2 linked regions of the Homo sapiens genome follow. The main gene of each other region encodes a partner of the protein of the gene in region 2 in a complex. Links are inferred from orthologs where the notes say so. Each region holds a gene or a part of one and is shown on either strand. Other genes may lie near its edges.

Region 1 (7,540 bases), on a different chromosome or scaffold from region 2:
AATTACTTTCAAAGCTCTGAAAGGCAAAGTACATTATCTGAAGCAGTTTGGTTTCATCAGTCTTGTCTTCTCTATTTTCTTCTTGGGGCTAAATTTCTTAAACTTAATACTACTGTTTTTACAACAATACAATATAGGTTTATTTATTTCAAAATGAATGAGGTAGGCCAGGTACAGTGGCTCACTTCTGTAATCCCAGCACTTTGGGAGACCGAGGTGGGCAGATCACCTGAGGTCAGGAGTTCAAGACCAGCCTGGCCATCATAGAGTGAAACCCTGTCTCTACTAAAAAAATACAAAAATTAGCTGGGCATGGTGGTGCATGCCTGTAGTCCCAGCTACTTGGGAAGCTGAGGCAGGATAATCGCTTGAACCTGGGAGGTGGAGGTTGCAGTGAGCCGAGATTGTGCCACTGCACTCCAGCCTGGGCGACAGAGCAAGTCTCTGTCTCTCAAAAAAACAAAAACAAAGGCTGGGCACGGTGTGGCTCACACCTGTAATCCCAGCACTTTGAGAGGCCTAGGCGGGCGGATCATGAGGTCAGGAGCTCAAGACCAGCCTGGCCAACATGGTGAAACACCGTCTCTACTAAAAACACAAAAATTAGCCAGGCGTGGTGGTGGGCGCTCGCTACTCGGGAGGGTGAGGCGGGAGAATTGCTTGAAACTGGAAGGTGGAGGTTGCAGTTAGCAGAGATCGCGCTGTTGCACTTCAGCCTGGGTGAAAGAGTGAAACTCTGTCTCAAAAAACAAAAACACACAAAACAAACGAGGTAAACATCAAAGTGAGACATGTAGACATGTGAAATATTAGTAAGTTTTGAAATGAGCAAATCCAACAGCCACTCTCACCACGCAATGAGCCCAGAAGCCATTTTAGATGGGGGTAAAGTGTTAAACTTGAACACACCCCAGTGTCAGAACATCCACAACTTCTATTTATTATAACTCTTGGATAGAGAGAACCCTAACCCCATCATTATAAAAAAACTTATATCCTCCATCATCTACACTGAATCTAATATAGCATCAACCATAAGATGTACTGTTATTTTGTATGCTGCCAAAAAGAAAGCAATGATACAAATGAAATTGTCACTGGGTTGATTTTGGGATGCCTCCCCATTTTAGTCAATATTTTTAAAGTTGCAGAACTGATAAGATAGGCAGGGATGGTCTGTTTTGTTCACTGCTATATTCCCAGTGCCAAGAATAGCGTACATAATAGTACACAGTTGGCACTCCATAAATGTTTGCTAAATATATGAATGAATGAATGAATTGGGACAAATAAGCTCTTATGGATGAAAGCCATGGAGAGTGATCATTTTATGACTGTGAGCACCCAACTTGAACAGTTAAAGCAAGAGCGCAACACTGTTACTTAAAGCAATACAAAGATTTCCAATTTATTTTTAAAATGACAAAGCTATCTATTGATGTTGCTGCAGAACAGCTCATGTTTCAGGAAGAGTGATAGCTCACATTTCCTTTATGATGCCTAAGACAAGATGCAGAAAAGTTGGAGCCTGTCATCGGGAGTCGAATGTCAGGCCAAGTTATTTCCAAACTTGTGCTGTAATTGTGATGGGGCATAGCTGTGGTGGAGACCTTGTGTTTTCTTGTCCCATTATCACTGTCCACGACGTTCATGCTGCGGAGTTATTTTCTGAAGGTCCACTGTACTCCATGCAATGTGGTGGTGAACAAGATATACAAGACAAGTCACTCTGGGTGTGATAGGCACTAACCAGACAGGACTCTGGAGCACTGGTGTAAACTGGTCTTAGGCCCCCGCATAACCTCTGCATTTGCAAATCCTGGGCTGGCTCACCAAAGGGTTTGAGCAAAAGGCTCTGTCTAGGCTGTCTTAGCACCGTAAGTATTGCCTCTGGTCTTCCACTCTTGTACAGGCCAAGACCTTTTACGGTTGCATGTACTCCCACTTCTGGCTAAGAAAACAGATGGAAGCTTACGGTGTTTCGGGAGAAGGATGACACATTGATAATTAAGAAGCAATGTAGCTAAGTGCTACAACAGAGACACAATGGATGTTTTAGAACCCTGGAGGAGTAGGGCAAGATGCTAGGCGAGGCTTTTTGAAGGAAGTGATACTGAACTGAATGCTGGCAGTGAAGAAGGTGTGGGATTCTTTGCAGAGTGAACAGGAGAAGCAAAGGCAGAGAGGTGAGAAATTGTGTGCTGTACACCAAGAACCATCACCGATTCTGTTGACGGAACATGAAGCAGTTACACGGGGCTTAGGCAGGAAGAGCACCTGAGGACAGATCATGACTTGCAGACACTGAATTTCAAAAAATATTGGTGATGTGGGATCAGATTTGTTTTAGGAAGATGACCCTGGGCTGGTCTGTGGAGGACAGATTCCTGGGGACACAAGTGAAGTTAAGGAGACCAGTTGGGGAATATGCGGGCGCAGAAGTTTCGGTGAGATACAAAGAGCCCACGGTCAAGAATTTATGTCATCAGGAGGTGAACGAGGGAGGACGGGGGTCCTCCCACTGGATGTGGGCCAGGGGAAGAGGATGAGGAATTCAGAGGAGTCCAGGACAATCCCGTGTGTCCGGCTGGAATCTGAATGGCTGGTGGGAACCAGCAACCAAAAGAAAAGAAAACAGGTGGCAGTGGAGCAGCAGCAGAGAACAGGATTTCGGGGAAAGAAAACAGAACTTTTTTTGGCATCCTGAGTGTGAGGTGCCAGGTAGAGAAGCCAGGCTAGCAAGGCACATCCGAGCTGCAAGTAGGAATGGGCTGGGACAACAATTTAGGTTTAGAAACCACCAGCATATATGGGGTACCTGGAACTGTGAGACTAAACAAAATCTCTTGGGGAGATTCTTAACAGAATCAAAGTCAGGAATTTTGGTCTTTATTCCTTTTTCTATCAGACTTCCCAGGAAAGTGTATTTTCTTTTTTTGGGTAGTCTGGTGATTTCTCTTAAAAATAAAACAAACTGAGAATGTCAGTGATGGGGGAGATAATATCTGTTCTTTTAAGCAGATTCTAAATGTATTAGTACCATCAGTAACTAAATAAAACTTTATCTTAAAACCTCTATTACACATTGTAGTTCATATTGTATGGGCTCACTCAAGAGTTTATAGAAAGTATTTTTGGATCAGGTAAATGAAATCATCCAACAGCAGTGCCGTTAAAATCTAAACTACAAAGCCCTGTGTGATCTGGCCACTGCCTACATCTCCAACTTCATCTCATAACACTCGCCCCCCCAACCCCAACTTATTGGTCTTTCAAACCACTCCTAGGGCACGTGAAGCTCTTTCCTGCCTCTGCATAGGCGGTTTCCGCTCATTTCTCTTCAGATCTGAGCTGATTATCAGCCCAGAGAGGCCTTCCCAGAACAGCCTATCAAGAAGAGCAACCTCCTTCCCTTTTTGCTATTATCTGGTTTTCTTTTTCCTTTTTTCTTTTCTTTTCTTTTTGAGACGGAGTTTCGCTCTTGTTGCCCAGGCCGGAGTGCAATGCTGCGATCTCGGCTCACCGCAACCTCCGCCTCCCAGGTTCAAGCGATTCTCCTGCCTCAGCCTCCCGAGTACTGAGATTACAGGCATGCGCCACCATGCCCGGCTAATTCTGTATTTTTAGTAGAGCCGGGGTTTCACCATGTTGGTCCGGCTGGTCTCGAACTCCCGACCTCAGGTGATCCGCCCGCCTCGGCTTCCCAGAGTGCTGGGATTACATGCGTGAGACACCGCGCCCGGCCTGCTACCTGGTTTTCATTTCCTTTACTACACTTACACAAGGTCTACTTTATTTGCCTGTTTGCCTCCTTGCTTTATTACTAATAGATCCTCGAGGGTAGTGATTTTGTCTGTCTTCTCTCCTGCAGCCCCGTCACGTAAAGGTGCTGGTCAAAGGAAGGCGGCAATCACCGACCGGACACCAGGGCAAATCAGGGCAGCCCAGTGATTCGAGATGCCGGCTGGGGAATCGGACCCATGTGGGTCTTTTCTCAGCTTCCCCGCTTACTGTGACTTTCATAAGTAACGGAACCCCCTCAACCCGTTTCCTTAAGTGTAAAAAGGCACTAGACACAGCAAGAAGCGGTTCCGGCAGCGCGGAAACCGAAGCACACGCTGGGTGTCACGACAACACGTGGAAGCCGCATTCCGTGCCGGGGCCCTGGCCCTAGCCCCAGCCCCGGCCCCCGGCCCGCCATGTGGCGCGGCTGACCGCGGCCGTGCGCCCACCTGTCTCCCTCTGCGTCTTCACGCTGATGTACTGGCGCAGCTTCTTCACCGCTCGGTCCCGGATGCCCTTCTCGCTGGACGCCAGCCGCTGGGCAAATTGGATCTCGGCCGGCTGCATGGCGGGGGCCATCGCGCCCGCTGGAGCATCCCCGGCCGCGCAACCCGCGGTGCCGCTGCAGCCAGCCGAGCGCTGCGGAGCAGCCAGCCACCGTCCGCCCGGGCCGCGACTGCACAGAAGGCGGCGGCGGCGGCGCGCGGGCTGATGGCGTCACAAAGGCGCCGCGGCTCGCAGCGCGCTCTGGGAGTGAGCGCGGCAGTGGCCCTGGCAGCTGGCGGAGCGGCCCAGCCCGTGTGCACGTGGCGCCGGCGCTGCCTTTCGGTTGCCAAAATTCAGGCTGTAGACGGCGAGGTTAGCCAGGGTTAGGACTTGACCAGGAAGAGACGGAAGGCTGTTTGTAAACGGTCTAGGATTTTTTGTTTGTTTTTGAGACAGGGTCTCCCTCTGTCGCCCAGGCTGGAATGCAGTGGCGCGATCTTGGCGGTGATCCTGGCTCACTGCAGCCTCGACCTCCCAGACTCGATCGATCCTCCCATCTCGACCGCCCAAGTAGCTGAGACTACAGGCGCGCGCCATCACGCCCCACTATTTGTTATTTTTTTGTAGAGACGGTGTCTCGCTATGTTGCCCAAGCTGGTCTCAAACTCCTGGGCTCAAGCAATCCTCCCGCGGCGGCCTCCCTGATCGCTGGGATTACAGGCTTGAGCCGCCGCGCCTGGCCACGGTCCAGGATCTTTAATCCCATTTAGCACACCTCGTTGAGCCAGCAGCTTACCTGCGATCTCCGTGGCGTGGAGTTTTTAACTGTGGAGCCCCCGGGCCCCCGGGTGGAGTTGAGACTGGAAGGAAAGGCCGGCACTGGGGCCTGTTGAGCGGGTGGAGGGCTCGCCTTCCTCCAGTGCCTGCAGAGGCTTGGGCAGATCGGTGCGCCCCTACCCCGGAGCCCTGGTGCCAGTGCAAGGGCGCCCGCGCAGGCGTCCCGAGGCCTGGCGAGCACGCGCGCTTCCAGGGGAGTTGGGCAGGGCGGGCTGCTTGCTAATTCCAGAGAGGGAAGAAATCTTAGCTTTGGGTTCATCTAAAACCCGAGGCCATCCTATATTTTGCGGACTCAGCGGGCGTGCTGGGGCAAGTTAATGGACTAGGTCACTCCACACGTAGCGGGGGTTATCTCAGTTGCTCCGCTCAGTTGTCTAGGCGACCTCCCGAGGTGCCTGTTGACACAAAAATTCAACCCTTAACGTAAAAGCGCCTGAATCCGAGCGAGGGAAGGCGCGCGGAGGCGAGGTTTCCAGCAAAGACTGCCCATTTGAACGCAGTCCCCCTTAGTGTAGCATTCCTCGCCAAACAGGAAAGGACCCATCCGATTTATTTTACTTGACACTTACATCAGGGGCTGACTTTCCTTCTGCTTTGCAGATAACAAGTTTAAAACCCCGGCTAAGCCAGAAGAGCCAAAGAGGGACCTCGCCAAGGCCACTCCTCGCTCTCTAGGCCGAGAATACTGCGCAAATTCTGGGAGGTTTGGGCCTGGCGGCTCTCCGTTCCCGACCCCCGGCGTGGATTCGTTCCCGCGCTTTCTGGCGTGAGGGGTCAGAGGGCGCGCCGACGCTCAGGCGAACGGAGCGGAGGCGGCAGCGGCCATGGGCGAAGCGGGCGCCGCTGAGGAGGCCTGCCGGGTTAGTGAGGAAGCCCTGGCCGACGCCAGCGTGTTTGAACCGTCGCCATTCGCTCCCCTCAGGGCCTCGCCCCGTGCGCTCGGAGACGGCTCGCTGTCGCGTGCTTGGGGGAAGCCTGGAGACTTCCTCCCCTAACGGCGTGGGCTGGGCCGGAGCGGGGTGGAGACCTGGGGCGGGAGGCGACTTCGCCTCCAAACCCACGCGGGGACCCGGTCTGTGAGGCTGCGCGTGGTGGGGGCACTCAGTGGCGCCAAAGCGGGCATGGGAGCGTGGGATGGATGGTCACTCTCTTCTCTGCTCCGTGGAAGCCCAGTTCCCCTCCGAAGGCCCTGGCCCCCTGCTTCGGGACTTAGCGTCAGGCTTAGAGAGAATCTGCCCTCCATCGATTTTATAACTGTAACTGATTGCATGCGATGGAGAAGGCGCTTGGACTGGGGCCAGATCCGTGTTCACATCCTGCTTCCACCCGTTATTAATTGTGCTGCATTGAGAGTCATCTAGCTCCCGTGCCTTAATTTCCATCTAGACAATCTTGGAGGCTTGGGGTGAATAGTAGATGAGATCACGGGCGGAGGGCTTGGCAAACCCAGTAGGAAACCAGATGACTTCCTTTTCCTCCTGATTAGTTTGGTGCTGCAGTGATAAAAAGTTGCAGGCGTTTTCTTTGACTTTTAGGAATAGAGCTCTTGTATGACTTTTCTTTTTCGTGGTCTTGCTCTGTTGCCCAGACTGGAGTGCAGTGGCACGATCATAGCTCACTGCAGCCTCCAACTCCTGAGCTCAAGCCTTCTTCCCGTGTCAGCCTGCTGCGTACAGGCGCCGGCCACCACACCTGGCTAATTTTTGTATTTTTAGTGAGATGGAGTTTCACCATACTGGTCAGGCTGGTCTTGAACTCCTGACCTCAGGTGATCCACCCGCCTCGGCCTCCCAAAGTGCTGGGATTACAGGCGTGAGCCACTGCGCCGGGCCTCCTGGGCACGTTTTCATATTTTTGTAGTGACAGGGTCTCTCCATGTTGCTCAGACTGGTCTTGAACTCCTGGCCTCCCAAATTCCTGGGATTTCAAGTGTGAGCCACCATGCCTGGCCTGTTTGTCCTTATTATTTTTAACATCTGGCTCCCTTTTTGAAGGCTGAAGCTTCAGCTTTCAAAATGTTTGTATGTACATAAAATATATCTATAGCAGAATATACAGTAGGTAGAGACATGATTTGAAACAACGATGCACATAAGAGGTGTGAAAGAAAAGCAAGTTAACTTGAGCTGTTGTTTTTTTTCTCATGTGAAGAGAAATATAATAAGATCTGCTTGTTCTTTTAGCACATGGGAACTAAAGAGGAATTTGTTAAAGTCAGAAAGAAGGATCTGGAACGGCTGACAACTGAAGTGATGCAAATACGGGACTTCTTACCCAGAATACTAAATGGGGAGGTGCTGGAGAGCTTCCAGAAATTAAAGATTGTAGAAAAAAGTGAGTCTTCATTTTCAGCAGTCATTGGTGGTAACAGTAATTTGTTCTAGCAGATTTACCCTAGGTAAATAATTGTAAACGAATTTTAAGGTACTCTTAC
Region 2 (7,023 bases):
ATACAAAAATTAGCCGGGCATGGTGGCACCCACCTATAGTCCCAGCTACTTGGGAGGCTGAGGCAGGAGAATCGCTTGAACCTGGTAGGCGGAAGTTGCAGTGAGCTGAGATTGCGCTACTGCACTCCAGCCTGGTTGACAGAGCGAGACTCTGTCTCAAAAAAAAATTAATATATATTATATATCATATATAAAATACATACATATTCATATTTAATATATACATACATATAAAATATATAATTATAATGTATTTACATATTGCATATTTATAATTATAAAATATATTATTTAAATTATATATTTATGATATATTAATATATTATAAACATTATATCCTTGTATTATATTATATATTTATATATGATATATATTTATTAAATATATACTATATATATTATATATCCCATTATATTGCCAGGTTGTTCCATGTGATCTAAAGCCAGGCCACGCCACCTCAGGATTCAGCCTCAGCCAAATATGTAAATATATATATTTATACATATGTATTTATACATACATATGTATTTATACATACGTATTTACATATATGTATTTATGTATTATATATACTATATATATATTTTTTCTTTTTTTAAGACAGGGTCTGGCTTTGTCTCCCAGGCTAGAGTGAGGTGGTGCAACTGTGGATCACTGCAGTCTTGACCTCATAGGCTCAAGCCATCCTCCCACCTCAGGCCACTCAAGTAGCTGGGACAAAAGGTGTGTGCCACCATGCCTGGCTAAGTTTTCTTTTGCTTTTGTTTTGTTGAGACAGGGTCTCATATGTTGCCCAGGCTGGTCGTGAACTCTGGCGCTCAAGTGATCCTCTTGTCTCGGCCTCCCAAAGTGCTGGAATTACAGGCATGAACCACTTTGCCTCGCCAGAATCTATCTTTTGAATTAAGAAAACTCCCTTACATCGAAACTTTTTTTTTTTTTTTTTGAGACAGAGTCTCGCTCTGTCACCAGGCTGGAGTGCAATGGCACGATCTCTGCTCACCGCAACCTCTGCCTCCCGGGTTCAAGTGATTCTCCTGCCTCAGCCTCCTGAGTAGCTGAGACCACAGGCACGCACCACCACACCCAGCTAATTTTTGTATTTTTAGTAGAGACAGGGTTTCACCATGTTGGCCAGGATGGTCTCGATCTCTTGACCTCATGATCCGCCCGCCTCGGCCTCCCAAAGTGCTGGGATTACAGACATGAGCCACCGTGCCCAGCCACATCAAAACTTTCAATAGTGGCTGGCTTGTAAGACTTCCCCAAGCCTGGCCCCAACCTAATCATGCATTCAGTGAACAAATGATAAGGGTTGACTCTAGTGAGTTCCACACCAGATGCTGTCCTAAGAACTTGTGTGTGTTAAGATAAAAGCTCAAGGCAGGGTGCTGCTGTTATGCCTGCCTTACAGAAGTACCTTGAGCAATTCAATATTATCTTTGTCCATGATTAAAATATTGGCCTTTGCCACCAGCAAGGAAAGATGCCAGCCTGTAATCCCAGGACTTTGGGAGGCCGAGGCAGGTGGATTGCTTAAGCTCAGCAGTTCAAGACCAGCCTGGGCAACATGGCGAAACCCTGTCTAAAAAGTACGAAAATTAGCCAAACATGGTGGTGCATGCCTGCAGTCCCACATACTTGGGAGGCTGAAGGGGGAGGATGACTTGAGCCCAGAGGAAGAGATTGCAATGAGTCCAGACTGTGCCACTGCACTCCAGCCTGGGCAACAGAACTAGAGCCTGTCTCAAAAAAACATTTAAATTAAACATTTAAATTAAAATAAATAAATAAAAGGGCAATATGGCAAAACCCCATCTCTACTAAAAATGCAAAAGTTAGCTGGGCATGGTGGTGGGCACCTGTAATCCCAGCTACTTGGGAGGCTGAGGCAGGAGAATCGCTTGAATCCGGGGGGCTGAGGTTGCAATGAGCCAAGATGGCGCCACTGCACTCCAGCCTGGGCAAGGGAGTGAGATTCCATCTCAAAAAAATAAATAATTAAATTAAATTAAAAGGAAAGGAAAGATGCGAGAATTGACACCCAAGGGCCCCAAGTTCCCAGAGAGGTGAAAACGTTAAGGCACACAGAGGCCCAGGAACCAAGGCTGGCACCCCGTCCAACTCCAGAACCAGCACACTTAAGAATACTTGAGCATTTACTGAATGCCTACTATGTAGTAGATTTCTGCCAAGGCAGGCAGAACAAAAAGACAAACCAACAGCCAGGTGTGGTGGTGCACACCTGCAGTCCCAGCTACTCAGGAGGCTGAGGGGGTAGGATCACTTGAGTCCAGGATCTCACTTGGGTAACACAGTGAGATCCCACCTCTATAAAACATTTAAAAATTAGCTGAGGGTGGTGGCATGCACCTGTAGTCTCAGCTACTCAGGAGGCTGAGGCAGGAGGATTGCTTGAGCCCTGGAGGTTGAAGCTGCAGCAAGCCGTGATTGTGCCACTGCACTCTGGCCTCAGCAACAGAGCTAGATCCTATCTCTAAAAAAAACACTAAAGAATAACACTATCCAGGACCAGGCGCAGTGGTTCATGCCTGTAATCCCAGCACTTTGGGAGGCTGAGGCGGGCGGATCCCCTGAGGTCGGGAGTTTAAGACCAGCCTGACCAACATGGAGAAACCCTGTCTCTACTAAAAATACAAAATTAGCCGGGCATGGTGGCTCATGCCTGTAATCTCAGCTACTCAGGAGGCTGAGGCAGGAGAATCGCTTGAACCCGGGAGGCGGAGGTTGCAGTGAGCCGATATCGCGTCATTGCACTCCAGCCTGGGCAACAAGAGTGAAACTCCATCTCAAAAAAAAAAAAAAAAAAAAAAGAATAACACTATCCAAACCCCAGATGGACTCTTTCCAACCTCAGCTCTACATTACACACTTACACATCGTGAAGTAAACCTACTGAATGAGTCTCTCTTTCCTCGACGCCAATTGCTAGGGTCTGCATCAGTCCCCATTCAGCTGTTTGCCCTCCACTAAACCACAGCAATCTTCCTGTAATTGCTTCTAATTCTTCTTCTTCTTCTTTTTTTTTTTTTTTGAGATGGACTCTCGCTCTGTTGCCCAGGCTAGAGTACAGTGGCATGATCTCAGCTCACTGTAACCTCTGCCTCCTGGGTTCAAGCAATTCTCCTGCCTCAGCCTCCTGATTGGCTGCGACTACAGGTGCAAGCCACCATGCCTGGTTAATTTTTTTGTATTTTCAGTAGAGACGGGTTTTCACCACGTTGGCCACACTGGTTTTGAACTCCTGATCTCAAGTGATCTGTCTGCCTTGGCCTCCCAAAGTGCTGGGAATGCAGGTGTGAGCCATGGCGCACGGTAAGTTGCTTGTAATTCTGTCAGTTACAGTTCGGGAGTGCCCGTTTAGAACTTTATCCCACTGCTGTGTATTTGCTTAGCTCTCGCTGAGAGAAGCATTTTCCTTTGTCCTCTGACTACAGCTGGAGGATCTCCAGGGCAGGAACTGAGTGCAATGCACCCTTTGATCTCCCCTTCGCCCTGCCCTGCCCCATCAGGTGCCCACCTCAAAGGATGTACCACCACAAGTAAAGCTCCGATGGACATTGCTTATAGAAACACATTCCTAACCGTCCGGGTGCAGTGGCTCATGCCTGTAATCTCACCACGTTGAGAGGGTGAGGTGGGCAGATTGCTTGAGGTCAGGAGTTCAAGACCAGCCTGGCCAACATGGTGAAACCCTGTCTCTACTACAAATACAAAAAATTAGCCAGGTGTGGTGGTGGGCACCTGTAGTCCCAGCTAATCAGGAGGCTGAGGCAGGAGAATCACTTGAACCCAGGCGGCGGAGGTTGCAGTAAGCCAAGACTGCACCACTGCACTCCAGCCTGGGTGACAGAGCAAGACTCTGTCTCAAAAGAAACACGACCTTGTGGTCTGCCAGAAAAGACAAAATATAGCTGCTTTGTTTATTTGGTTTCTTGAGATTCTCAAACACTTGCTCACTTGGCTGACTGAATGGCCATTTGTACCAAATAAAAAGCAAAAAAATATCAATGGCATTGAAGAGTCTTCTCTTTCCTTCCTGTGATCTGTCCACATGGGACTAATTTAAGAAAAAATAAGGCAGAACCTTGTGTTCGACACCAAAGACTAAAGACATTGGGAGGGAAAAGGCCTCTTTCACCACCTGCCAGAATTTTCTTCCTCTCTCTCCACCCTTCCAGCACACACAGAAAGGGTTGTCCAGGGCCAGCCCAGAGGTCCACTGAGCTGGGGAGTCTACCGCCAACAGAGGCCCCAAGTGACCTGCTGTGGGTGGACCTGGCTGTCCCCAGCTTCCCCCTCCAAGGTCAGAGAAATTCTGATGCCTCCAAGCAGCCTGTTGCTCATCTCTGCACAAAACATGTTCAATCTGCTGATCATTTCCTCTCCTGTCCCATATCTTGGGGGAAAAAACATGCACACCATTCCCTAAATTCATCAGCCACTAAATTAAAAAGTCATTTCAAAATTTTGAAGAAATTTAACTTACTTTAGAAAATGATAGGCAAATGGAACTCTACTACATCATATTGGGAGTTTGTCTTTCTGACTTGGTTTGTTCCTTTTTTTTTTTAGACAGAGTCTCACTCTGTCGCCCAGGCTGGAGTGCAGTGGTGCAATCTCAGCTCTCCTGGGCTCAAGCGAGTCTCGTGTCTCAGCCTCCCAAGTAGCTGGGATTACAGACACATGCCACCATGCCCGGCTAATTTTTGTGTTTTTAGTACAGATGGGGTTTCACCATGTTGACCAGGTTGGTCTCGAACCCTGACCTCAAATGATCCATCCACCTGCCTCGGCCTCCCAAAGTGCTCAGATTACAGGCATGAGCCATCGTGCCCAACAATCTTTCTTTTTTTCTAAGAGACAGGGTTTTGTTCTGTGGCCCAGGCTGGAGTGCAGGCGCAATCATAGCTCACTGCAGCCTGGAACTCCTCAGCTCAAGCCATCCTCCTGCCTCAATCTCCCAAGTAGCCAGGACTACAGGTAGGCACCACCACACTGGTTAATTAAAATTTTTTTTTTTTTTTAGAGACTGGGTAACATTATGTTGCTCAGGCTGGTCATGAACTCCTGGTCTCAGGCAATCCTTTCACCTCGGCCTCCCAAGTAGCCTGGAGTACAGGTGCGTACCACCAAGCCTGGCTATTTTGGGGTGTTTTTCTTTTCAAATGATGAAATTGTATAGGTATGTTGACAAGTAAACATGGTCATGATCTACCACAAAGTGAAAAATGGAGGTTGCAGATCAGTAAGTGTGATGATTCGATTTTCCAATAAAAACATTTTATCTGGGCCAGGCACGGTGGCTCATGCCTGTAATCTTTGGGAGGCTGAGGCAGGCGGATAACTTGAAGTCAGGAGTTAGAGAGCAGCCTAGCCAACATGGTGAAACCCCGTCTCTACTAAAAATGCAAAAATTTGCCAGGCATGGTGGCAGGTACCTGTAATCCCAGCTACTCAGGAGGCTGAGGCATGAGCATCACTTGAACCCAGGAGGCAGAGGTTACAGTGAACCAAAATCGTGCCACTGCACTCCAGCCTGGGTGACAGAGTGAGACTGTCTCCAAAAAAAAAAAAAAGAAAAAAGCTCAACACTGTATCTGTATATATACAGAAAAAGTCTGACCAGGCATGGTGGCTCATGCCTGTAATTCTGAGCACATTGGGAGGCCAAGGCAGGTGGACTGCTGGAGCCCAGAAGTTCAAGACCAGCCTGGGCAACATAGTGAGGCCTCGTCTCTTCCAAAAAATACAAAAATTAGCCAGTCATGGTGGCACACACCTGTAGTCCCAGCTATTCCGGAGGCTGAGGTGGGAAGATCACCTGAGCCTGGGGAGGTCGAGGCTGCAGCGAGCTATGATTGTGCCACTGCTCTCCAGCCTGGGCGACAAAGCAAGACTCTGTCTCGAAAAAAAGAAAAAAAAAAAAGCTGGGTATGGTGGCTCACTCCAGTAATCCCAGCACTTTGGCTGAGGCGGGCAGATCATGTGAGGCCAGGAGTTCAAGATCAGCCTGGGCAACATGGTGAAACCCCATCTCTACTACAAATACAAAAATTATCTGAGCGTGGTGGCAGACACCTGTAATCCCAGCTACTCAGGAGGCTGATGCAAGAGAATCGCTTGAAACCAGGAGGCGGAGGCTGCAGTGAGTCAAGATCGTGCCACTGCACTCCAGTCTGGGCAACAGAGTGAGACATCATCTTAAAAAAAAGTCTGAGCTGGGCGCGCTGGCTCATGCCTGTAATCCCAGCACTTTGGGAGGCCGAGATGGGCGGATCACCTGAGGTTGGGAGTTCGAGACCAGCCTGACCAACATGGAGAAACCCCATCTCTACTAAAAATACAAAAAAATTAGCTGGGCATGGTGGCATATGCCTGTAATCTCAGTTACTTGGGAGGCTGAGGCAGGAGAATTGCTTGAATCTAGGAGGCAGAGGTTGCGGTGAGCCGAGATCGCGCCAGCCTGGGCAACAAGATCAAGACTCTGTCTCAAAAACAAAAACAAAAAAGTCTGGGCTGGGCGCGGTGGCCTACTCCTGTATCCCCAGCACTTTGGGACACCAAGACGGGCAGATCACCTGAGGTTGGGAGTTCAAGACCAGCCTGACCAAACCCTGACTCTACTAAAAAAATACAAAAATTAGCTCAGCATGGTGGTGGGTGCCTGTAATCCCAGCTACTTGGGAGGCTGAGGCAGGAGAATCGCCTGAACTTGGGAGGTGGAGGTTGCAGTAAGCCGAGATCGCGCCACTGCACTCCAGCCTGGGCAACAAGAGCGAAACTCCGTCTCAAAAAAAAAAAAAAAAGTCTAGAAGCAGTGTACCGAGGTTAGAGTCCTGTCCTGTTTTTCATGCTGTTCTACAGTTGATCACTGTCCTATGGCTATGCTAGATGTCAACATTAGGGAAAGCTTGGAGAAGGGTAGCTAGAACTCTCTGAATTATTTTTGCAACTTTTCTTTAAGTCCCAGATTACTTCAAAATAAAAGTTTTCTTAAAA

What was found.
Region 1: the proteins of BRME1 (region 2) and HSF2BP are in contact, whole or in part, in a crystal structure (PDB 7Z8Z), measured with the Mus musculus proteins. The link is inferred for Homo sapiens from one-to-one orthologs. Residues at the interface, in NP_083321.2 of Mus musculus: Met541, Gln542, Asp543, Ala544, Thr545, Val548, Arg549, Leu551, Val552, Leu555, Ser556, Asn559, Ile562, Met563, Thr565, His566, Leu569, Lys573; in NP_083178.1 of Mus musculus: Glu23, Phe24, Val25, Lys26, Val27, Arg28, Asp31, Leu32, Arg34, Leu35, Glu38, Val39, Gln41, Ile42, Phe45, Leu46, Arg48, Ile49, Glu53, Leu54.

What each region holds. Positions count from the first base shown.
Region 1 is NC_000021.9:43,656,487-43,664,026, reverse strand, and holds the start of HSF2BP (heat shock factor 2-binding protein), read left to right. Parts: upstream 1-4,538; 5' UTR 4,539-4,641; exon of another isoform or gene 4,642-5,706; 5' UTR 5,707-5,930; coding exon 5,931-5,966; intron 5,967-7,289; coding exon 7,290-7,440; intron 7,441-7,540. Other genes in the region: RRP1B (ribosomal RNA processing protein 1 homolog B), read right to left, coding at 4,233-4,362. UniProt on the Homo sapiens protein: Meiotic recombination factor component of recombination bridges involved in meiotic double-strand break repair.
Region 2 is NC_000019.10:13,896,112-13,903,134, forward strand, and holds part of BRME1 (break repair meiotic recombinase recruitment factor 1), read right to left. Parts: intron 1-7,023. UniProt on the Homo sapiens protein: Meiotic recombination factor component of recombination bridges involved in meiotic double-strand break repair.